Regions from separate parts of the Homo sapiens genome. Here all the other regions are linked to region 2. The links come from fine-mapping of genetic effects on gene expression. A gene starts in region 2. Each other region holds a variant in brackets. All regions are shown on one strand. Distances are between the middles of the regions. Region 1 has its middle 58 kb from the start of APCS. Region 2 holds the start of DUSP23 (dual specificity phosphatase 23). Region 3 overlaps ATP1A2 (ATPase Na+/K+ transporting subunit alpha 2).

What was found. PIP is the estimated chance that this variant, and not a neighbour inherited with it, causes the effect. A credible set is the group of variants that fine-mapping cannot tell apart.
Region 1: its variant is the best candidate, but not a certain one, in a credible set for the expression of DUSP23 in whole blood (TOPMed, PIP 0.84).
Region 3: its variant is the best candidate, but not a certain one, in a credible set for the expression of DUSP23 in testis (GTEx, PIP 0.82).

What each region holds. Positions count from the first base shown.
Region 1 is chr1:159,642,223-159,650,406 of GRCh38, reverse strand. No RefSeq gene overlaps it. Among named protein-coding and RNA genes, the nearest start is that of APCS, 58 kb to the right of the region's middle. The variant T/C (reference allele first, on the strand shown) is at 3,568.
Region 2 is chr1:159,776,456-159,784,639 of GRCh38, reverse strand. It overlaps DUSP23 (dual specificity phosphatase 23), which reads right to left and starts at 3,678. Exons shown (of 2, transcript NM_001319658.2): 1 at 3,273-3,678; 2 at 2,097-2,487. The coding sequence starts at 3,539. The coding sequence ends at 2,302. It overlaps LOC101928264 (a long non-coding RNA gene), which reads left to right and starts at 5,259. Exons shown (of 3, transcript XR_922193.3): 1 at 5,259-5,414; 2 at 5,979-6,225; 3 at 7,885-8,183. RefSeq lists an enhancer at 2,786-3,362 and a silencer at 3,354-3,743.
Region 3 is chr1:160,136,208-160,144,391 of GRCh38, reverse strand. ATP1A2 (ATPase Na+/K+ transporting subunit alpha 2) reads right to left here. Exons shown (of 23, transcript NM_000702.4): 18 at 8,022-8,145; 19 at 7,677-7,822; 20 at 7,361-7,491; 21 at 4,651-4,752; 22 at 4,408-4,499; 23 at 801-3,098. The coding sequence ends at 3,070. Among named protein-coding and RNA genes, the nearest start is that of ATP1A4, 11 kb to the left of the region's middle. The variant C/T (reference allele first, on the strand shown) is at 3,495.

The DNA.
Region 1 (8,184 bases), 130 kb after region 2:
AAAGTGACGCACAGTAAAGTCTCGATAATTGCTAACTGTTATTATTATTCATATGTATTAGGGACTTTGTTACTTTTGGGGTGGTAGTGAACTGAAAGTCCACAGAGCTACATTTTGAGATGGTGAGTGATTCAACAACAACAACAACTGACACCCTAGTTGCATGGCTATAGTGTTGTAAACTGTGACAACTAATATAAAGAATAAATAATGGTTTTTGCAGACTGTAAGTGATATGAGAAAGTAAAACAGAGGAGCTCAATTTCGGTTGACGTTATGTGGAATGGGAAAGATATCTCTGAGGAAATCGCATCTAAGTTGAGTCCTGTAGGATTTTGTAGCTTTAGCATGGAAAAGTGTAGTGGGGAAGGAGCATGGGATGCATTCCAGGCAGATGACCTCTAACTATGAGGAGGCTGTTACAGGTTGAATTGTATCCCCAGCAATTTCATATGCTGAAGTTCTAAGTCCCAGTACTTCAGAATGTGACTATTTGGAGATAGAGCCTTTAAAGAGGCAATGGAGGTAAAATGAGGTCATGTGATTGGGCTCTAATCCAATATGACTGGTATTCTCATTAGAAGAGATTAGGACACAGACACATATAGAGAAAAAATTAGGTGAAGACACAGGGAAAAGATGGCCACTGACAAGCCAAGGAGAGAGGCCTTAGAAGAAAATCCTGTCCACACCTTGATCTCAGACATCCAGCCTCCAGAACTGAAAGGAAATACACTTCTGATGTGAAGCCACCCAATCTGTAGTACTGAGTGCATCCCCAGCAAACTAATGCAGAGGTCAAATTCATTATCTAGCTTCCTTTTCATTATTCTAATGGCTTCTTGGCAATTCTTTCAATTTTCTCCTCTCTATTCTTGATCTGCTGCCTGAAGTAACCATTTTGTTTTCATGGTCATAGCAATTTTGCTGGCTAATGGACCTTCCATCTGAACTTTAAGGTTATTTATTTCCTTTTAAGGTTTGTTTTCTCCTACAAACTCTATCATGCCCAGGTTACTGCTCCCATAATTAACATTGTGCTATCAGGCTCCAGCCAGCCTGTGCTCACAAGTGCTCTTTGGGCCTACCATTTTCCTGTATATTTCTTCTACCAGCTTCTCTCACAGGCCTGGATTTTGCTATCAACAGAGACCTTGCAGAGTTCGCTAGCTGGAATGGACACTGTGGGATTCTGAGCAGCCCTTTACAACCCTCACTTTCCATTCCAGCTTTTTTAGCTTGTCATCCTTGGTATTTGAGATGCCTTTAATTTTATCCAACATCTGTGTTATGTCTACCGTTTTTTTTTGCTATTATAGTCAAGAATATTGTTAATCATATCTCTTTGTATATATGTATGCATATTTTTCATAACAAGTACCCAGAAGTGAAATTGCTAGATTAAAGGCTATATGACTTAACATTCTACTAGATGTTGCTTAATTGTTTAATAAAGGCTGTAAAAAATTGACATTCCCACCAAATGGGCATATAAGTGCTTTTTCTCCCATTTCCAGTATTTCCCACCTGATATTTTCGAACTTTAAAGGGTTTGCCAATATGATGCATAAAAAAGTACATCATTTTGCACCTCCCTAATTTCCAAGGCTGAGTATCTTTCCTCGATATGAGTAGTCTTTTCAAATGCTTTGCTCATTTTCCTACCATATTATTAATCTATTTTTCAGTGATTTCTAGGAATTCTATATATATTAAACTAATTAATTTTTGTCTATTTTATTTGATGTGTGCCAGATATTTTTCCAAGTTTGTCAATTAATTTTTAACCCTATGGCATTTTAAAAATTTTATAATTTTTTATTTTTTTGCTGTGTAGAAATTTCAATTTCTTAGAGAGTAGAATTTTTATGTATTTTTTTATGTAAGCAAACCTTACTCACTCAAAGATTATAAATATAGTCTTTAAAATTTTAATATTTTTACCATTTACAAAATCTCTTTTAAAGCTTAAATAATTTTCAACTCAATTTTATGTATATTGTGAAAGATGATCAACTTTTTTTCTCTTATACGGGTAGAAAATTGCATATTGAATTTCTTTTACTTATTTAAAATTTTACCTCTAAAATATTTTAAATTCACATATAAATGAATTTGCTTCTGAAACTGCTCTTCCTTTTGTCTTTGGCGTATTATCATATAAATAGCACATATTTAAATTACTATGGTTTTATAGTACATTTTGATGTTTGGCAAGGCAATTCTCCAATCAGTATTTTCCCTCTTTCATGTTTTGTTGGTTATTCTTGTGAGCTTGGTCTTCCAGGTGAGTTTTGGAATGCACTTTTTATATTTCATAAAAAATTATGTTGAAAATTTGATTAGAATTTTATTACCTTTGTACTGGTTATTATATTTGTATTATAATAAAATCTGTCAGTCTTACTAACTTAAGACCATCTAAAACACAAACGACCTTAACAACAAAGGAATTAAGTGAAAAGATATTGGAGTATTTCAGAGAACTTAAAGAACTGCTGTGAGGAAAGGTGGTGACATGATGATTCTTGCATCCTTAGTAACTGAGTCTGTGGATCTGCTCACTAGGTCTTTGCCATGAATATGACTCAGAGCCTTCAACTGCCAGTCTCTGTGCCAGTCTCTGTGCTCTCCAGTAAAAATTCCAGATTCATAGGAGAGAGAATTTGATTGTTTCATCATGGGTGCTATGTCTGCCCCTATATCATCAGGTGTGATCAGGCAACACAGTTGATAGGAGAGGTGTCACCACTGGGCCCCATTTTTGGCGACAACCCAAAGTTATACATATTTACTGCATCTCAGGGCAACGTCCTCTGCCACTGTTTCCCCGATTCTACCTCTTTGAATGATCATTTCTCTAGTTTTTTGTGATTCATCTAAAATATTCTGCCACCTATGGATAAAGTTATCCCCCCAAAAATCACATTGTATATGCAATGATCAGTGGAAAGAGGAGGAAAAAGAAGAAAAAATATAATCCCTCTTTAGATAGATAAAGAAAAGGGGATGATAATTATATCCAAATAGTAAGCAAGGAAAAATAAAAGGAAACCACAATCTTCATTTATTTTATTGGTCACAAGACTTTCTTGAATTTTGACTTTTTTCTAACTTCGGTAATTCTATGTTCTCTTTGTCTTATGACATCATTGGATTGTGATTTTTCTCTCTTGGTGGGTTGATCCTCAATCCTGAGGGTCTGAGCAACTAGTGTTACTACCTGTTAAGAATTTGGATTGTCTTCTCTTAATATTTAAATTTGTGCATAATAGAACAAAGAATTTTCCTGGCAGCTTGGTGTTGTGGCAGCATTAAGGCATATATGACTTGATCCTAATATGCTCTAATATGTTTTTGGTGGTAGGAGTTTAATATATCCAAGCTTGGCTCACCAATTTAAACAGGAGTGTTTGCAAAAAGAAAGGGGAACATGGTCAGAGCCTCTTCTTTGATCTCCAAGACTCCCTAGATGTTTAGTTCCCTTTTCAGAATAGCAACCCTATTTCCTGTGGAGAGTTAGTCAATCACACAAGCCAAGATTCTGCAACTTCCTTCTAGTGGCCC[T/C]GTGGTTGTCTCTGTACCAAATATGGAAAATCTTTGTTGTGTTTTCCAGTGTAAGTTTTCTTCCCTTAGGTGTTACAATTTCTATAACACTTAATTATTTACCCTTATTTTTCCTTTATCCTTATTGCCTTATTTGCTTATTTGTGAACTAATGTTCCCCGAATTTTTTTCAAGCTGCCTCAAACCCTTTTTAGAATTAGTCAAGGTAAGCATAAACAGGTAAAAGTGTCACTCCCACCTCCATGCCTTGGTTGTTGGCTGTGAGACTGGTCAGAGTTTAATGGCATGCTGTAAGGCAGCAGCCTAGCCTGTGTCTCAGAGCTGGCATCATGAGATGCCACTTTTGTGGTAGAGTATACCAGCCTTCCCTATCTGGTGGCTCACAAATTCCCAGGGTTCATAGATGTATTCAAGGAAGTTTGTGTGGATAAAGATAGTAACGAAATTTGGCTAAGTATCTAATAAACTAACATTTTCTAGTTTGCCTTTTGGAAATGGGACAGTTTGTCATTCTTGAGCAGATATAGAATGAACATTATCTGTGGCTGATGGCAATCAGATGAATGTACTCAGAAACTCTTGTTTAATAGTTTTGACCATTAAACAGTTTTAAATTATTTTATTCATAGTTGCATGCTATTTAATTTATACTCATAATGAACTGTTGATAAATACAAGAAACATAATGAAGCTTGATGTTGAAGTATAAGTTAATGACAATAATTCAGCAAATTCATCTCAAGATGATCTTACCAAATCTTTAAGTGGCATTCAGCTAATCAAAACTCTTATGTGGCACATTAAGCGTTCTCTGTATTAAGATAGAAAATTTGTCGTGATTGTATCTAACAATGTGTTACAAAGACCTACATTTGGGTTCTAAATCAAGCATAATATCAATTTTAAGAATTTATTTATAATATAGTCAGATACACACATGTAACTTAAAGCAAATTAAGTAGCATGTCACTTGTTAAATGTAAAAATGTCTTTTTATATTATAAATTATTAAAGATAGTGTGAAAATGAATCTTTGCATATTTAATAATATAGTGATCAAATTTTAAAACTTATTTATCGTATTTTATATACAAATTAAAAAACTTTAAAAATTTCTACAGCAGCCACAAATACACACAGGCACATACACACACACACACACACACACACACACACACACACACATCTCATTGCAAAAGCCTTTTATAAGTCCATAATAATTAGAAAATAATTTGGCCATTTCCCTCCATGGGCATCAGATTATTCCTCTCTTTCATTGTGAAATGTGTTCCTCTGTCAGAGGCACTATTATGTAGGATGCCACAATGATGCATAAGAAATTTAGTATAACCACCAAAGGTGGTGCTGACAGATATTTGATGAGCAGGGAAACAAATCTAAACCCGTAATATGTCTATTCTTGAGGACGAACTGCTACCCTATTCATGATAGAGAATAATGCCATTTTCTCTTTCTCCATGTCAGGAGTTTAGCATTAAGTAACCAAGTCAGATTTGGTGAGTGGAAGTCCATGCTAGTAAGTCCATGTATATCCTCCATCACGGCCTTTAATTTATTAGTTCATTTAGCAGTGAATGTGCTGGCCAGAAAAAGAGTTGGGATCAACAACAAAATAGTTCTCCTGATGCTCTGATTATTAAGCATCTCATCTTCAGTGAGGAATTTGTATGAGATGCTATGTTCAGATATTTTCAGGCTCTAGGCTCTTTATGAATGGGCCACTCTGAAATGACAGGTAAATGGGCTGCATGAATGCTTTTGCTTTATTTATTTTTTTGAGATGGAGTCTCGCTCTGTTACCCAGATTGGACTGCAGTGGCGTCATCTCGGCTCACTGCAACCTCTGCCTCCTGGGTTCAAGTGATTATCCTGCCTCAGCTTCCTGAGTAGCTGGGATTATAGGTGCACATGACCATGCCCGGCTAATTTTTTTGTATTTCTTTAGTAGAGATGGGGTTTCACTACGTTGGCCAGGCTGGTCTCGAACTCCTGACCTTGTGATCCGCCTGCCTTGGCCTCCCAAAGTGGTGATATTACAGGCGTGAGCTATGGTGCCCAGCCCCCTTCTTTGTTTTTGTGCAACTTACTATGTAGGCCTTACTAAAACATGGAAAGTACTTGCTACTTCTTAATGAAACCATTCCTATAAACTTTATAAAATTAATCAGGGAAGAAGGCAAGGGGGCTAGTGAAAATAAACCAAGCTTGCAGCCCATTCATCAATAATCATTATGTGAGCTTGCTCTCTGACATGCTTCCTTATAGCTATTTGGTGCCTATTGTCCTAGAATCATGTAGACCTGTTACAAGATTATAGTTACTCTTAATTGCTCTATAACTAACAACTTGAATATTATGAATTGTTGTTTTTCCTTTGAGGTGTTCTTTCAGGTCCTGCTTATTAATGAAGCTACTGACATCATTTGGTCTGAAGGACCCCCTGGGGAGCTAACTCACCAAAGAATACAATTTCCACATACTGATTATTTCATGCCCCTTACCTCTACCAATCTATGACCCCAATTTTCCAGCCTCTTGCCTTCCATGATCCCCTTAAAAGGCACAGCCAAGAACTCCTCAGGGAGATGAATTTGAAGTCTCATCTCATCTCCTTGCTTGGCCACCCTGAACTTAAACTCTTTCTCTGCTGTAAATCCTGCTGTCTCAGTGTATTGGTATGTTACTGTGAAGCAGGCATATGAACCTATTGGCCCTGTAACATTGTTTCCAGGACCTATCTGCATGACACTGTCAGTGTAGTGGACTGGTGTGAGGTCTTGAGGGATGATTAAATGGTCAAGGCCCCTGTAGATTAAATTGTTGCCAAATGGTGTTACAAAATGTAATATTGGAGAATTGATGTGAGGACATCCTTGTGTACTGGGATATGTATAAGCCTGTGTATAGCAGATCTATTTAGAGCATCCCCCAAGCCAAGAATAACTCAAGTATCAAACAGTATACATGATAAATATATTGTGAAATACATGTATAAATTACAGCTATACACTACCAAAAAATATATGAATTTCAAAGACATAATGTTGAGCCAAATAAGCCAGGCACAGAATAACATATATAATATAATTTCATTCATAAAAGGCTAAACACACGCAAAACTACTAAAGTAGAAGTTTAACGTAAAATACATAATGTAGAACTTAAATTAGTTCCAAAATGAAAGTTGAAAGGGAAAATAAAAATTCAAATTGGCTAGGACTGGCAAATACCCTTAGAGCCAAAGTAACTTCCATATTAATTTATCTCCTTGGGTTTCTAGTTTACCTTCAGTTTTGGCCTTGTATTTGTTTTAGAATCCTCCCCTCCCCTCGCCTCCCCTCCCCCCGCTCCCCTCCCCTCCCCCTCCCTCCCCCCTCCCCTCCCCCTTCCCCTCCCCCTCCCCTCCCCCTCTCTCTTTTCTTTCTCTTTTTTTGTTGTTGTTGTTGAGACGAGTTGTTCTGTCGCCCAGGCTGGAGCACAGTGGCGTGATTTTGGCTTACTGCAAGCTCCGCCTCCTGGGTTCATGCCATTCTCCTGCCTCAGCTCCTGAGTAGCTGGGACTACAGGCATCCACCACCATGCCTGGCTAATTTTTTTGTATTTTTAGTAGAGACAGGGTTTCATCATGCTAGCCAGGATGGTCTCGATCTCCTGACCTTTTGATCTTCCCTGCTTCGGCCTCCCAAAGTTCTGGGATTACAGGCGTGAGCCACTGCGCCCAGCTTGCCTGCCTGCCTGCCTTCCTTCCTTCCTTCCTTCCTTTCTTCCTTCCTTCCTTCCTTCCCTCTCTCCCTCCCTTACTTCTTTCTACTTCCCTTTCCTTTCCTTTCCTTTCTCTCTCTTTCTTTCTCTTTCTTTCTTTCTTTCTTTCAAGATTTAAAAATGTTTTACCTAGCTCTTAAGCTATTTTCCAAATAAATGTGTCTGCCATTACTAGAAACAGGAAGTATATTATAATTTCTTGAATATTTTTTGTTTTGCCAAAAAGCAATCTAGAATAAGTTTTTAATAGAAATAGTACCTGAACAGTAAATGTTCTAAATCTTTGTATGTTCAAAAGTCTTGGTTTCATCTTTACAGCTGATTGATACTTTGGTTGGAGGTAGTCTTCTAGGTTTGAAATTACTTTTCCTCATCACCTAAAGGCCTGGTAGGATTTTCTTGCTTGAATTGCTATTGATGTGCCTTTCCCCAAGTTGCCTTCTCCAAATGGAGGTCTTACTATGGCTGAGGGATAAGATTCATCATGGTGTTATGTAGGCAGGGAGAGGAAGACAGCTGAGGACCCACTACTGACAAAGTAAGCAAATATTTATACTGGTGGTAAAAAACATCAATGTGTTCTACTTCTGGGTCTGGCTGGTTGTTCTGTAAGGAATATCTTGCCTATTGTGGAAATCTGAAGCTATTCCAGGTGTTCTCTGCTTTTCTCTTCACCCAAAGACTTGAAATAAGAGCCTTCTTTATGTAGACTTTTGCTTGTTTGGAGAGCAGATCTGGGGATTTTGTCCTTGTGATTAATGCCAAAGTGCTAAACAGCTGTGCATTATTTGGGGACAAGAGGAATAATTACTGCTGAACTGTTCTATAGGAAGC
Region 2 (8,184 bases):
GAAAGGGAAGGGACATGGCTCGTCTGTTACCCCTTATTGGTAGCCATAGACATAAGAGGGCTTGGTGAGAAGACAAAAACAACTGGGAGTGGAAACGAGCCCAAAGGAAGCCACAGGCTAACCCACCAGGTAGATGGAAGGATAAGGGCAGAGTTTTTCATTTCAAGCCAACTCTTATTATTTAAAAAGCAGTTTCCTTAAGCACTTAATTATACGTGTATTTCCCTAAGGAACTCTTGAGGCAGAGGAGACTTGCTTAAATTATGGGGATGGAGGCAGTACACAGGGCTTTAATGGGGTTAGCAAAATTTTGTTTCCCTTGCAGGAGCCTTGGGAGGAAGGGAAGGGCATATTCCTCTTCCACAGTGCAGAGATGTGGGGAGGATGGAGTGACACAGGAACAGAGGCAGAAAGGGCAAGGATTGGTTGTATGGCCTAGCAGGTGAGGATCAGAGTGGAGACACGAACTTGGGGAAGCTTCATGCCTCACACCTCTCTCTCTCTCTCTCCATCCTGGTAAGCCCTCCGACTGGAGGGGAGAGGTTCAGGAAGTGGCCCATTCACACCCTTCATGCCCTACTCCCTTCACATGAAAATACACACACACCCCTTTGGAAGATGTTCTGGTTTGCATCAGAAACAGAATGGGGCCATACTATTGGGGGAGGGGTGGATGGGGGAGAGCAGGGTAGACAGAACTTTTGGTGACAGGAGGGTAAGGGTTTCAGTGCATCCTCTATTTGCATTCTCATTCCTCTGTTGCAGCTGGAATGCCTGGAATGTGTGGGTTTCTTCTCTTTGGGAGACATCCTCACTTGAGTAGGCTAGGTGGAGACTAAGCTTGAAGGAACTGATCACTCAGATTTGACAAATAAAGTTAAACTGGGGAGAGGGCATCTTATGGCCTTAGATTGGCAAGACTTCAGCTGATATCTCTTGTTTAAGGTTGAGTTGGACAGGGATGAACTGGGTGGTTAGTGGTGGAAGGGGGAAAGCAGCAGAAAGGAGGACCAGTTGGCTAGGCCTGTCTCTGGTCTATGATACAAAAGATGAGATCTACAGGGGAACCCTTGACTCCCCACTCTTCTATGTCTCCACTGGAACTGGAATGCATGTCTACAATAGCATCCATTGTCTGTGGTGGACTCTATCTGTGCCCATCTTCTCCAGCAGGCTGAGCTCCTGAGAGCAGGAATTATGTCTCATTCCACTGTGCGGCCTCCAGATCTAACAGAACTCATACAGGTACGTACAGGAACTCACATATTTTATGGTGAATTTCTATCTTATTCAGCCTGCTATTGCAGAAAAGACCACAGGCAGACCTACAGTAAAGAGTCCATTGGGCGGATATATGCCATTCTTCCCATTTCTCATAAGTCAAAAGTGTAGTGGTGCTGGCAAAACAGGGCCCAACAAGGGGGCAGAATGGGGTCCAATAGGGGATAACTGGAGATAACATCTGAGAAACATGGCCAAGATTTAGAGCCCTGGAACTCTTCATTTAATTGTTAAATATCTGCTCTGCATAACTGCCTAGATTGGCTCTGTTCTCAGGTCCTTTGGCCTGAGGTTGTGGGGCAGCAGAATGAGCCAGAGAGCCCAGATGAGCTGAGCAGCACCTGAGGTTGGTAAGAGGTGACCAGCCCTGTGGAGGTGGAGATGGTGGTTATCTGTGAGTGTGACATCCAGGCTGTCTCTACCCCCAGATAAACAAGGGTGACACGTGTGCAGCAGGTGGGCCTACACGGAGGGGCCTCCTGGCCTGTGAGCATCAGAGACCTGGGAATGCCAGGAGGCCAGGCTATTCTGGACCTGAATCCTTTTCATTGACTAGCTCCCCCAGAAAACACATCAAATATTGTCAGGGAACAGATACATAGCATTTCAGCATCTTCAAGGGATTGAAGACGTGTGTTGCTGTTCTGGCCCATCCTTCCACTTTCTAGAAGTGTTGAAGATGGGCCTCTCTGAGCTTTGCCCACCTCATCCAAAGAACAGAGATGGCCCATCTGTCTTTCCTGTATCACAGGGCTACAGTGAGGCTGAAGTAAGTTAATGTGTGGGAATGCTTTATAAAGTACCATGCAACGTGCCCTGGTTCGTAAAACTCATTTATTCAACAAAGCAGTACAAGCCTCCCCTTCAATCAGGACCTGCCTGCAGGGGTGGGCTACTTCAGTGTCTTCAGCCAATGGGAGCTAGAGGGTTTAATACTTTAGTCCACTTCCCTTCATCTCTGGCCCCATCGACAACATGGGGAAGGGGAGTGAGGGCCTGGTAGAAGGGTACTAAGGCCCCTTATTTCGTTCGCTGGTAGAACTGGAAGACTGCTTTCTCCTGCTCATAGGTCTCGATGGAGCCGGGTCGTAGTCGTCGGATTTCAGCAATGGCATCTCCTGCAGCCAAGCCCCGCTCCTTCACCAGGTAACAGGCCAGCATGGTGCCAGTGCGGCCAAAGCCCAGAGCACAGTGCACTCCCACAGCCTACGAAGAGGGGGCTCGATGGGTGCCACTCAACTCCCCCACCCACAACTGTTTCCTGCCCCTCACTTGGTTCTCCCCACAGCTCCTTCTTCTGTGCCAGGTCCAGGGCTCTGCAGCAAAGTCAGGGAGGGCTGTCCCTGCACTAGGTGGCTAGGAGGCCTCTGCACTGGCTGGTTCAAGAGCTGTCCACCTCTACACAGCCCTCCACCTGTGGTGTTCAATACAGAAGACAGTAGCCACGGCTACTGTGGCTACTGTACTCGAAATGTGGCTAGTCCAAACTGAGATGTAGTGTGAAAAACGCAACAGGGTATGAAGAGGTAGTAGAAAAAAGAATGAAAATATCTCATTAAGATCACCAAAGTTAATTTTATCTGCTTCCCTGCTTTTTAAGAATGCCGTTGCTAGAAAAATTAACATTACATGGAGCCACTTAGGTTCCATTATATTTGGACAGCTTTACTCTAGAAAATGGTAAACAGCCTCCACCTGACTTCAACCCCCACCTCTCCCAGGTGTCTGTCCACACCCTTCTCCTTCACAACTCACAGTATTAGCTGGTTTTCACTGCCTCTCCTCAAGCCCAGTTCGCACTGCTTCGCCCTCTCTTTAGTTCCTTCCGTTTAGCGCTTCCCTCCCCCGCACTGGCTTCCCAGTCTCCCGGCCCTACTGTCTGCCTCCCCGAGCCCAGTTAAGTTATCCCAGGCCCGGTCTCCCCAGCTCCGCCCGTGTCCCCCGCTGACCTTCCAGGCCCCTCCCTCCCTGCGCTGACCCCGCCCGCTGACCTCTCCCCGTGCGTTGGCCTCGTCCACGATCTGCACGAAGCGGTCGATCTGGTCGGGGGCCGGCGGGCAGAAGTCGGGGATGCGCAGGCGGTGCAGGGTGAGGCCGGGGCAGCTGTCGCTGTGAGGGGGCCCGCGCTCCGTCAGGGACACCAGGTGCCGCACGCCCAGGTCCAACAGGAACTGGTAGTGGGCGGGGAGCCGCGGCAGCGCCAGTCCCGCCAGCCGGCCCGGAAGCACCCAGGAGAAGTTGGGGGGCTGCACGCCCATCGCTGGGAAAGGGCACAGGACAGCGGGTCATGGGGGCCGAGGCTGGCCAGCCCCGCTCCGCCCACGCGTCCCCTCGCCCGCTCCGAGCCAAGTAACTCACCACCTACCTGGCCTCGGCGCCTCCCGGGCCACGTGGTCTGCAGGGCGCCGCCCTCGGGTCGCTCTGCCCAGCCGCGGGGATTGGCCCAGAACCTGGGGCGGGGCTGGAACGCGGAACCCAGTCTCTGAGCGACCGAGGGAAGCGCCGCGATCCCGCCCCGTCCGAGCAGATCACGCGGTGATTGGCTGGATCATCATAATGGGCGGGGGGTTACTTCCACGGGGTTCAACCCACTCAGCTAAGAAGGAAGACCTGGAGCGAGTTAGGAATTGTTTGCTGCGGATGGAACAACCCGGGGTCGGGCTCTGCTGCACCCTGGCGGCATGTTGCAGTCATTGCGTCACTGGCGCCTGCCCCTGCCTCCTCGCGGGCCGGCCTAGTTCTACCTCCTTCACGCTGGATGCCCTGGGGTTTAAGAGATGACAAATCGGCTTTCTCCCAGGACGAGGAGTCTCCTCTCTAATGATTGACTGGTCGTTATCAGCGACTTTTTGAACTGTTCCAGTAAGAGGGAATTACTGCTGCAAGGAGGCTATTCTCATTTTTTCATTGCTGGAACTATTAAAAACTTACCCAGGGTAATAATTATAGTAATAATAATAACCAGCACCAACTTCTCCTGTCAATCCAGTTGCTCCTCAGGACTTATTGAGCATTTATTATGTGCTAGATAGTCTTCTAAGCACTTAGCACATACTGACTCATTTAATTGCCACAGTAATCTTATAAGATAGGTGATCTAGTGAATCCCATTTTATGGATGAAAAAACAGAGGCACTGGAGAGGTTAATAAACTTGACCAAAGGATGATGACTAATGCCTCCAAAATCTTTAATAATATCGCCATTTCCTAAAGTTAAATGGAACATTGTTTTCTCTTCACATAACCCCCTCATGTCCCCAAATATTATCTGGGTTAAACGCTTGTGGGTTTTCTTAATTTTTATTAGTATTTCATATTTCTTCATTTTTCAAGGTTTCCTAGTTCTCTGGGTCACTGTCCCCTGGGCAGGCTAGAGTTGATTAGTGTTGTTCTTACTAGGTGGGGGCCCCTAGATCTGAACACCGTTTCCACTGTCATCTGACCAGTCCATATCCTCATTTGAATAATGTGCTTCTAGCGATGCAGACTAACTGTAATTATGAAAATAGTTAACCCTTATTGAATTTGTTTATGTACCAGGCCCTGTGCCAAGCGCTTTCTGGAAGAACCACATGTGAAAGGTATTTTTGTATCTTTTTTTGTACATGAATCATTGGAAGCTTAAAGAAGTTGGTTAACTTGGCCAAGGACACAGTGATCCAAGCCCAGGGCACTTGGCCATGAGGATGTATTATATTTCCTTCCCTTTGCACCCACCTATGACACACGTCTGACCATTTAAGCCTTTGGCTTCAGCAAGATGGAAAGCAATTTGTCTTCTCCTAAAGATCAAAGCCTGCTCTGACCCTGTGGGAAATACACTTACCATTTACCCAGACAATTACTTTCCCCAGGTTCCAGGAGGTGCCAAATCTCCCCTTTTTCTCCTTCCAGACAATCACAGCCCTCATTAAGCCCTTCCTGTTTGCACTCTCATTTCCTACATAAATTCCTATCAAGGTTACCAGCCCTCCCCAGTTTATTCCTTTCTCTCTTTCCCAGCCATGGCCTCTCAGCCACCAGTCACCTCTTCCCCCAACCCCCTGACCTCCCACTTCTCTTCTCAATTCAACTGCTCTTCAGGATTTCTGGTTGCACTACCTCTGGAGACAAGACTCTAGCATTTGTTCTTGTAAGTTAATCTTTTCTTAGTCCCTTTGCCTTGTTCTCCTTTCTTTGCTTCCCCTACTCACCAGGGAAGTTTCCACTTCACTCCCTACCCTCCTATGTGCTCCTTCTTTGCCTCCTTGATATCCAGCTCGAAGCCCATATTCTCCAGAAAGAGAAAATTTTTTTGGGAGACCGAGATCTTCCTCTTCCCTGAGTCCCCTACCAATGATTCTCTCCCTCTTGTGGGTTTCTGCAGGGCTAGCAGTGCATCCATCAAACCATTAGGGCCTCCATGTGGAGAGGCCAGTTGGCTCCCTTTTTAGGAAGCTCTGCCCTTCCCTTCCAGCAGACCCAGAGTGGAAAGGGCCCAGGGTCCCTGCCTTAAGCTTTGTCAAGGGTGCCATATGTCAAGGGTGCCATATGATGTTTTGTCTTGGGCCCAAGGGGCCTCAAACTGTAAGGAAAAACCCTCTCTGATGGTTTCCTGGCTCAGACTTCTGCAATTAACAGGACTTCTGCAACTAACCACCTTCTTGTCTGCCCACATACATGATACTGACCTTCTTTTATTCTCTCCTCTGTACAGAGTTACCTGACCCTCAGGAAGATTTAGGCTTTTTTTTTTTCTCCCATCTCACCTTGTATAAATATGTCTTCTCAGTATAGTAATGTCATTGGATTGAGGATACTTGTTTGCAGAGGAGGCAAGAATGCGTTGTTCCGTTTTTGAATTCCACACATCTAATATGGAGCCTGAGCCACAGGGCTCAAAATGTTAAGTAAACAAATGAATGGGAAATTAATAAGAAGAATGCATTGGCAAGACCGTGAAGGTACATTTCTAGGAGTGAATGTGAGTCTGTCGGACCATGTGGCAATGTGTATTTGTAATTCTTTTTAAATGCACAAGTTTGAGGACTGTGTTGAGTATTGGGTAGTATCTCTTTGAAGTGTATTTTTTACTTGACTGTGCTTTTAAATAAAGAATGGCTGTGTCAGTATGATCTTGGCTATGTCTAATTACTATTTTTGTGAAATGGGACAAATAAAGCTTGTTCTTTATAGAGCACTGCTCTTGTAGTGTGCATGTGTGTGATGGCTTGTGTATTTGAGTGCTTTGGAGGGGCCGTGTTCCTGGAGAACAATCTATTGACACTGATGGTGGGCTGAGTAGTAAGCTTAAGAAATTTCCCTGACTTCAAGGAATTTACAACATCCTTGCGGGGGATTTAGACTCTGATGTAATTATTCTCAGGACATATAATAAAGTACTAAATTGCTCATCAAAGACAATCAGATAATACATATTAAAAAGCTAATTGTGCAGTAAAAACAAGTGCAAAAGAAGTCAGTGGGGGAAAGATAAGCTTGAATTGGAACTACCAGAAATGTCTTATGAAGAGAGGGATTTTTCTTTCCATTTTGTCTACTGTCCAATGAAAAGCTCAGCAGACCCAGCAATCCCATTACTGGGTATATACCCAAAGGAATACAAGTCATTCTTTTATAAAGATACATGCACCATATGCTTATTGCAGCACATTCGCAATAGCAAAGACATGGAATCAACCTAAATGTCCATCAGTGATAAAGAAAATGTGGTACATATACACCATGGAATATGATACAGCCATAAAAAGCAATGAGATCATTCCCTTGCAGGGACATGGATGGAACTGGAAGCCATTATTCTCAGCAAACTAACACAGGAACAGAAAACCAAACACTGCATATTCTTACTTACAAGTGGGAGCTGAATGATGAGAACACATGGACACATGGGGATGGGGAACAACAAATGCTGGGGCCTGTCTGGGGTGGGGACTTGGGGAGGGAGAACATCAGGAAGAATAGCTAATGGATGCTGGGCTTAAAACCTAGGTGATGGGATGATCTGTGCAGCAAACCACCATGGCACACTTTTACGTATGTAACAAACCTGCACATTCTTCACATGTACCCCTGAACTTAAAAGTAAAAAATAAGGCTTAACAGAACATTTTTTAGGGCATCTCAGCTTCCCTTTTTCCAGCTGATAAGAATGTTTTGACTTAGTTCTTGTTCATATTGAGGCCCCAGTCCCCTGTTTGGCTTGATGCTAGTGGCAATTAGGGGTGCAATTGGAGTCAGAGAATTTCTTCCTCCAGGTAGGTCCCTGTGTTCCACCAATGCAAAGGATTGCTTGGGTTCAGGTTCCTGTGGCCCTTGGACTACAGTCAGAATTCTCAGTGTCCTCAGTGTTCTGATTTTTTAATGTCTAAACACACTTCACACCTAAGATCTGATAATCTGGAAACTGAACCTAAGAAGAAATGGTATGGCAGCTAGCTTCCAAGATGGTACCCAATGAGCCATTTCATGCCTGTGTAGTGCTTTTCCACATTGATAGGGCTGATTTTTGCAACCAGTAAGATATTGTGTAACTGGTGGTGTGTGACTTCCTAGGCTGCATCATGAAATACTTAATTTTTGCCTTGTTCTGTCTTGGAAAGAAGGCCTGCCATGGGAAGCTTTGGGAAGAAGCCAGCTGCCATGTTGTGAGAACTCTCAAGCAGCTGTGTGGAGAGATCCATGTGGTGAGGAACTGAAGCCTCCTACCCACCATCAAGTCAGTGGCTCACTACTGTTGCAGTGAATTCTCCAGCCCATGAAGACTTTAGATGATTTACCCAACATCTTGATTATAGCCTCATGGATTCCCTGAGCCAGAACAACCCAGCTAAGCCTCTCCTGAATTCCTTACCTACAGAAACTGTGAGATAATAAATATTTATTCTTTTAAGCCATCAAAT
Region 3 (8,184 bases), 360 kb before region 2:
TGTGATTAAGGCTCTTATAATCACTACTAACTATAACTGTCATTAATGACACTGTTAAGAGTCATAATAAAGGGGCTGCAATATGGCTTGGGCAAGAATTGACTTCTGACCGTTATTCTGAAATCCTGGCATAGGTTGTAAGAGTTGGTGTCTTTCTCTCTCCCATTCCCAGGGCCCCCCTGGAGCAATGCACACCCACCCACCCACCCCTCCATCTCCAGCACACAAGCGTCCCCCCTACTGCTCATTACATTCTGTCCATGATGGTTTCTGATGTCTACTACTCAGGTGAATTTCAAGGATTGCATCCACTTTACCCCCACCCCTTAAAGAGAGCACCCAGGACAAAGCTCTGCATGAAGTACAGATTGTGAATTGGTGTTGACTCTTGGGCTCCTCAACCCACTATCTCCTTCCCCCATCCCATCAGATAGAGAATGGCCTGATTTTGGTCTGGAACAGAAAAAGCAGAAGTGCCCCTGAGGATCTTGTTCTTAATAGACTCACAGGCCCCTCCCTGTCCTGGACAAACTCTTGTGGCTCTTAGGGTGGGATCAGCATGAGGAAGGAGGCTCCTGCTATAGTTTCTTGTAGGTTATTTTGCAACCTAACTTCTTCCCCTCTTGCTTTCTCCACGGACATCATCTGCTCCCAGACCATTTCCCTCCCATCCCTGACACTTGCTATCTCTTTGTTGCTTTCCCTACAAGCCGAGTTCTGCCACAGCACATATTTCAATATCACGATTTAGGAGGGAGGCAAGTATAAAGTGTAGAAATCTGAATTATGGAAGAGATTTCTTTTTTTTTCATAAAGAAATGCCACTTTATTATTTTCAAGTACATAGGTAGTACCTCAAACTAATGTCTTACAAAAGGTCACCAATAAAGATCCTGTAGATGTTTCTTTAACAAATACATAAAGATTGATGATAATTAGCCCATGCACTCGCTGCTTCTAAAAGGATATTTCTAAAGTGCCTGAAAAGTATTGTTTTTGGTAGACTAAACATGCCACCTCTAGCAATATTGTTTATGCTCTTAATTTACTAAAAAAATGCCATTTTTATTGATTGTGCAAAGATAAACTTTTGTCCACAGTTAGTAATCTCCAATTAATCGGATCCAAATTAATATTGTCTCCCACTTAGATTCCCAGGCCCAAGGCAATGACTCCCTTACTTCCTTGCTTCTGATAAAGCAAAATTCCAGTGCAATGAAATGACAGCCTTTGGGAGGTGGTTTATGGGTCTGACCCAATGCTTGTCTTTTGTGCTTCCTTCCTGTCTGCCTTAGGTCTTCCATTTTCCTCAGATGTCTTTCTCACTTGCATGACCTATCTAGGTCTCTCTCTACAGGACATTCCCAGTGCCTTCTAAGCCAGGCTTAGAGAATGGGCAAGGCTGCCTGCAGAGCAAAAGTGTTAGATAGGGAGTAAGGGAAAGAAAGCTATCTCCTGTAGGAACCTGAAACCAACTCTCCAGCCCAGGGTAAGTGGGCACAATGATCGTCGGTTTGAAGGGCATTTGCCTGGAGGGAACAGCCCTGCCACCTAAGACGTCAAAAGCAAATCATTTTTTTTTTTTTTGAGATGGAGTCTCACCCTTTCGCCCAGGCTGGAGTGTAATGGCACGATCTCAGCTCACTGCAACCTCTTCCTCACAGGTTCAAGCAATTCTCCTGCCTCAGCCTCCTGAGTAGCTGAGATTACAGGCGTGTGCCACCATGACTGGCTAATTTTTTGTACTTTTAGTAGAGACAGGGTTTCACCATGTTGGCCAGGCTCGCCTCGAACTCCTGACCTCATGATCCACCTGCCTCGGCCTCCCAAAGTGCTGGGATTACAGGCATGAGCCACCGCACCCAGAAAAAGCAAATCTCTTAGTATTTTTCCTCTTGTCCAAAGGTTCTGACCATGTTCATGACCTAAGCTTGTCCCTGGAAGCATACATGTCCCTGGGAGACAGGAAGGTTCAGGGAACTTCTCCACCCTGATTCTAGCCAATGGCCAGCGAACTCCTTTTCCAGGGTTGGCTTGGCAGTGTCGGGGAATGATGCAGGTTCATCGGGATGGGCATGAAAAGAAAGGGAATGGAAGAGGCTGGGAAAGAACTTGTGGCCATCCCTTTCAGAACAGCATGGAGCTCTGAGGACTTAGTATTACAGAAGGTGAAGTGTTATTAAGTACATGAGTGACATCCGGACCTTGTGGACTAAGAGGACCCCTAACCAAGGGTCAGCGGGGAACTCTGTGGCACACAAGTGTGGCATTTCTGGAAGCTCTTGATTGCCTTCTGGTCCTGCCTCTGCTGCTACCCTGATGAGATCTGAGTTTGTTCTGCTGGTGGGGTATTCTAAAATGTGGGACGTAGAGCTGGAGTCCACGACATCTATCTGGAGACTCATGTCAAATGTCCTGTCATTGGCACTACCTCACTTCCTTTGTTGTTTCCTTCCTCCAGCCAGCCCTACCTCCATCTCCCACCTGTCTGCCCAGCTCTCCCTGAAGGTCCCTTACCAGCCTCGACTGGGAGACAAGTCCACCTTTTCCAGTCTCAGGCTCTTGCACTCACCAGAAGAACCTTTTGTGATTGCAAGGTCTGAAGGGGAAGCCAGGGATAGAGTCCTGCAGGAAGCTAACGGGGGTGGAAGTGGGAAATGGAGTGAGGCTGGGGTGATCTGAGAGGGCTTCCTTCTGGTTTAGATGGGTTCCTGCTTTTGGATGCTGATCTATTACAGTAGGAAGTGGGGTTGAAGGGATGGGAGTGGGCAGGGTGGGGTAACCCTTAATTCCTCAGAAAAAATAGACAACATAGTGGAGTGGGATGGAAAAGGATCTGGTCGGGGGGACTCTAACACATAGTGTCTAATCTGATTGTTCACAGTTAGGTCTATGGGGTCATCACCCCAATTTATATACCCCGCAACTTAGCCTGCTGAGTTGCCTCATTATCTCTCCCCAAATGTTGCCACCCAATGCCACCCGTTATTTCCATCCCTCTCCATCACCATCCCCACAACACCTCCAGAGCTCCCCATCTTTCCATGCCTGGTTCTTCTTCCAATGGGGTCAGTAGTATGTCTCCTTCTCCACCCAGCCTGTTAGAGAGATTGGGAGTGGAGATTGCAGCATGAGCTTAAAAGGAGGCAAGAGATCAATTTCCTAGGGGCTTGGGTCGCTGAAGCCAGGTGGAAGGAGAAGCCTGGTGAAGGGCACTGGGGGAAGTGGCTTAGGAAGGTGGAAGGAGGCTGGGTGCAGTGGCTCATGCCTGTAATCCCAGCATACTGGGAGGCTGAGGCAGGCGGAGATCAAGACTCCTGGCTAACCCAGTGAAACCCTGTCTGTACTAAAAATACAAAAAATTAGTCGGGCATAGTGGCATGCGCCTGCAATCCCAGCTACTCTGGAGGCTGAGGCAAGAGAATTGCTTGAACCCAGGAGGCGGAGCTTGCAGTGAGCCGAGATCGTGCCACTGCACTGCACTCCTGGTTGGG[C/T]GACAGAGCGAGACTCCGTCTCAAAAAAAAAAAAAAAAAAAAAAAAAAAAAGAAGGTGAAAGGGAGGAGAAGGAGGTCCAGTGAGCTGGGGCCATAGGTTAAAGGAAGGGAGGGTGAACCTGCCTTTAGGGGAGACTTGTATTTAGCACATTGGAGGCTGGGGCAGAATAGGTCGAGGGTGAAAATGCAAACGCCCACAGGGCCTCTTCAGGTGACGAACGAGAGTCTAAGGGAGCAGCTGTCCATTCTTGCTGTGCAGAGATGTGGACATGGGATTAACAGCTCTTCTGATCTTCAGGAGAAGTCGAATTCAGATTTTATGTGAAAGACCCTAAATTTTCTATATCGGACCAATTAATCCACCCTCCTCCCCCCACACACACAAAATATGGCACAGGTCAAACCAAACAGTATTCCTGGACAGTATTTGGTTTGTAAGCCATCATATTTTAACCTCTACTAAGTGATTAAAAAACGCTTGTAGGAAAAACAATAACTTGTCGGTTGATGAGTGGGGATCAGGAGGCCTGGGTTCTAGTACCAGTCCTGCTATTCTTTGCTTTACGACCCTGAACAGATTCACCTCTGAGCCTCCTCTATCTGTAAAATATGGACGTGGGACTAGGTGACCTGGAAAGGCCCTTCTAATTCTGATGTTCTGTGGTTTCAGGTGGAAGGTGGAGGGCCTCGGAGACCAACTGTGAGTTAGGCGGGGTTTAGAATCTGATGGGAAGAGGGCAGAGACAACAGGTTCGAAAGAGTCAGGGCTCCTGGGACCTGGGACCCCAGGATCTGAGGGTGTTGAGGAACAGAAGCAGGAACCAGTAGTGGGAGTGGAGTCTGCGTGTGGTCCTGGAGGGAGGAGCTGGTGGTGGGGCTTGCACTTTGCTGGGGGGAATGTGGAGGGGCTTACCACCAGGATACCGCCGCAGGATGAGCTTTCGGACCTCATCATAGATGAAGATGAGGAGGCTGTAGGGGAAGGCGCAGAACCACCAGGTGACTCTGAAAGCAATGGAGGAGAGTGTCAGCAGCATCAGAGGTTGGCTTGGTGGCTGTCACATAAAGGAGCATTCAAAGCGATCAGAACTTGGATCCTGGAGGGGGCTGAAGGCCCCCCGTATGACTACTCAGGCCGCCCGAAAGAGACACTCACTTGAGCGGGTACATGCGGAGGGCTACACCCATGCCTGGGCAGTAAGAGAGAAAGGCAGCCAACGCCGTCTCCTCCAGGAGCCCAAAAATCAGGATCTTGTTCCTGAAAGGCAAAGAAAGGAGGTGGCAGGTGAAGGGGGATCATGGAGGCAGAGATCCTGGGATACCCCTGGGGTGCAAGGGAAAGAGGAGAGAGAATTCTAAACGACATAGTCGCATGTCTTCTTCCAACAGCCTCTTCTCATGCTTTATGTAACCAAAGGAAGATGTTATTTGTTTTTCTGCTTACTGAGTTTACGTCCGAATGTTGTCTATTGCACGTATATTCATTCATTAAATAATTGTTTCTAGGTGTTGGGTGACGTGTTCTGTACTGGAGACACGGTGGTCAACATGGGGCCTGTCTCATGATCTTGTTATTGCTCCAGGCACAGGGCCCATGAAAGTGTGTCTCCCCAGCAAGATGCTTGAAAGCTCCTTCAGTGCAGGGCCCATGTATGTCTTCTACCGTCTCAGCATCTCCCACAGTTCCTGGTGGTGGTTTCATTATAGATATTTAATTCAGAGAATGTAAAGGGGATCACTGCATAATAAGTGGTTAATATATGTTCACTTTATCAGAATTGAAAAGCAGGATAGAATAAGGAGGTTCTCAGGGCAGTTTCTGCAGTCAGACAGGTGGTGTCTATTCCCAGTTCTGCCATTGACTAGCTTTGGGTTGCAGGCAATGTTGAATTTCTCTGAGCCTCACGTTCCTTCTCTATCAAATGGAGATTTTACCTTTTTATCATAGGGTTGCTGGGAAAATTAAGGGAGATAACACGTGAAAAGCTCTGCAATGTTCTGTCACTGAAATGTTCAGTGACAGACCTGGAAAATGTTCAGTCACATTATTACTCCACTTTTTTTTTCTGAGACAGAGTCTCACTCTGTTGCCCAGGCTGGACGATCACAGCTCACTGTAACCTCCACCTCTTGGGCTCAAGTGACCCTCTTGCCTCAGCCTCTCCAGTAGCTGGAATTACAGGTGTGTGCCACCACGCCCTGCTAATTTTTATATTTTTTGTAGAGATAGAGTTTCACCATGTGCCCAGGCTAGTACCAAACTCTTGGGCTCAATTGATTCTCCTGTCTCAGCCTCCCAAAGTGCTGGGATTACAGGTGTGAACCACTGTCCCCGGCTACTCCATCTTTTGTATTCTTACACAAGGTACCTCTTTTTGGTTCAAGCCAGTGATTTCCAAATTTTCACTCACTAAGGACCTCCTTATTTTCTTCTGTAAAGGCCACATTTAATTGTTTGTCTCTCAAGCTACATTTGTGAATAAGTATTGAATACATTTCCCCATTTAAAATTAATTAGAACTATCCATGGCTTCCAGACAGAACTGTGAATCAGCATCCGATCACCACGTCATGATATGCGCTCTTGGCTTTTGCCTAAGAATGACACATTAGTAAGCCTGGTTGCCTTCGCATAGGTGAGTGCTTTATTTTCATAAAGCTTTTCAAAATAAGGCAAATAGCATCTCTGAGGATCCCCAGTGGCCCAGGGACCTAAGGTGAGGCCTGTGGTGGTATTAGTACTCTTCCTCTGTACCCAGCCTGATTTTCATTTGCCATTTTTCCCATTTGCCTCTAAGATGGGCTGGATGCAGCCACTATGGCCATGTTCCCACCTTCGTGTGTCATCCCTGCAGTGCATAGCAAGTCCCAGGCCCCAGAATTATACCCAATTTCTTAGACTCTCTGCTCCTTGTTCTCTTCAAATTGCATTTTTTTTCCATTAGTATTTTTAGCTTACTGGAATCTCCTTCCTTCATGTTACCTTTATTTATCTAACAGGCTTTTCACTTTATTCTCCCTTGGATCTTAAGTGTTATTAACTTCACTTTGGCATCTTCTCCCCACCCTCCCCAGCCCCAAACTAAGAAACTGTAACAACCTCATGTGAGGAATTGTGGCCATTGTTTATGGTAGGAGAAAATAAAAGGAACCAGCATGAAACCTTCAGCGCTCAACCACCACCCATAATAGAATCACAGTCATTACTGAGTTCCAAACAGTGCCAGATGGTGTGAGCACAGAAATGTTGGGTAGTAGCCAGGGCTGGGTTTTAGAGACAGATCTGGTGAACCCTTACCATCTTGGTGACCTTGGGCACATCATTTAACCTGTTTGGGGCCTCTTATCCATGAAATGTAAACAGTAATACCCACCTCATAGAGCTATCGTGGGGCTAAACAATGTGTTAGGCACTTAGCACAGTGCCTGGCACGCTGGAACTCACACTGCAAGAAGCGCTGAACCCGACCCTCGGCAGCACGTGGCCTCCAGAACCACAGTGCAAGTGCTATAAACTAGACTGCCTGCGGAAGGCCAGGGGAGGGGTGGGCACAGAAGACACTGGATTTAGGGCTGGGCAAAGGATAGGAGCAGGTGGCACTCAAGTAGGAGATGGGGGAAAGAAGGGAGGGAGAGAAGGAGAGAAGAAAGGTGGAGAGAGACAATAACAAAATGCAAAATTAGGAGCCTGAAGCATGGCTTCTCTCTTCTATATGAAACCTATCTATGGATATACAGATGGAAGATTAAAATCTGATGCCCTCCTTACAGCTCTGGTCCAGGGCTGAGTTGGAAGCTTGGCCTGTGTGGGTTGGTGAGTGTGCCCAGAGCCTGGGTGGGTAGGTGCCATGGGGGTGGGCACTCACTTCATGCCCTGCTGGAAGACTGAGTTGCGGCGGGTCTTGCAGATGATGAGGTCAGCCCACTGCACCACCACGATGCTGGCAAAGAATGCCGTGTGGCACGTGAACTCCACCACCTTCCGCTGCTCATAGGTCTGGAGGGAGGGTGGGCAGAGACAGATGAGAGTGTCGGAGGAAAGGGTAGGACCAGAAGGTAGCATGGTTTCTCCTGATCCACCCCTAGCCCCAGTCCCAGTTGGCCACCACTGGCCACTCCTGCCAGGCATTCAGCTTCCCGTACCTTCACACATGTGCGCTGTGTTTACACAGCACCACTCACCCACTCCTGTCCATAGCTGTCCTCCAGATCATTCATGGTCCGGTCATCCCAGTCGAGGCGGATTCCCAGTAGCCGTGATGGCAGGAAACCGTTCTCTGCCAGGATCACAAAGTAGGTGAAGAAGCCACCCAGTGCCTGGATCATCCCTGTGGGTAGAGGGCCAAAGGCAGGGGCAGGGTCAGAGCAGGAAGCAGAAGGGGCACAGCCCCTCAGGGCCAGAGATGGAGGTCCCTGACCCTTGGGTAGCTGGCCTCTGTCCTGGAATTTTGCTTGGGGCTCATTCCTCTGAAAGCTGGGAAAAGAACCCTGTTGGGGTTCCCTCCCGAGGCCCGGGGCTTGGCGCACCGATCTGTCCGTAGGCCATGCTGATGAGCCTCTCATTCACCAGCTTGTCCGTCTGGGAGTTTCGTGGCTGCCGCTTCATGATATCACTCTCAGCTGCCTCATAGGCCAAGGAGATGGCAGGGACCTGTGTGGGGTAGGAAATGGGGCAGGGAGGGCATTTGAA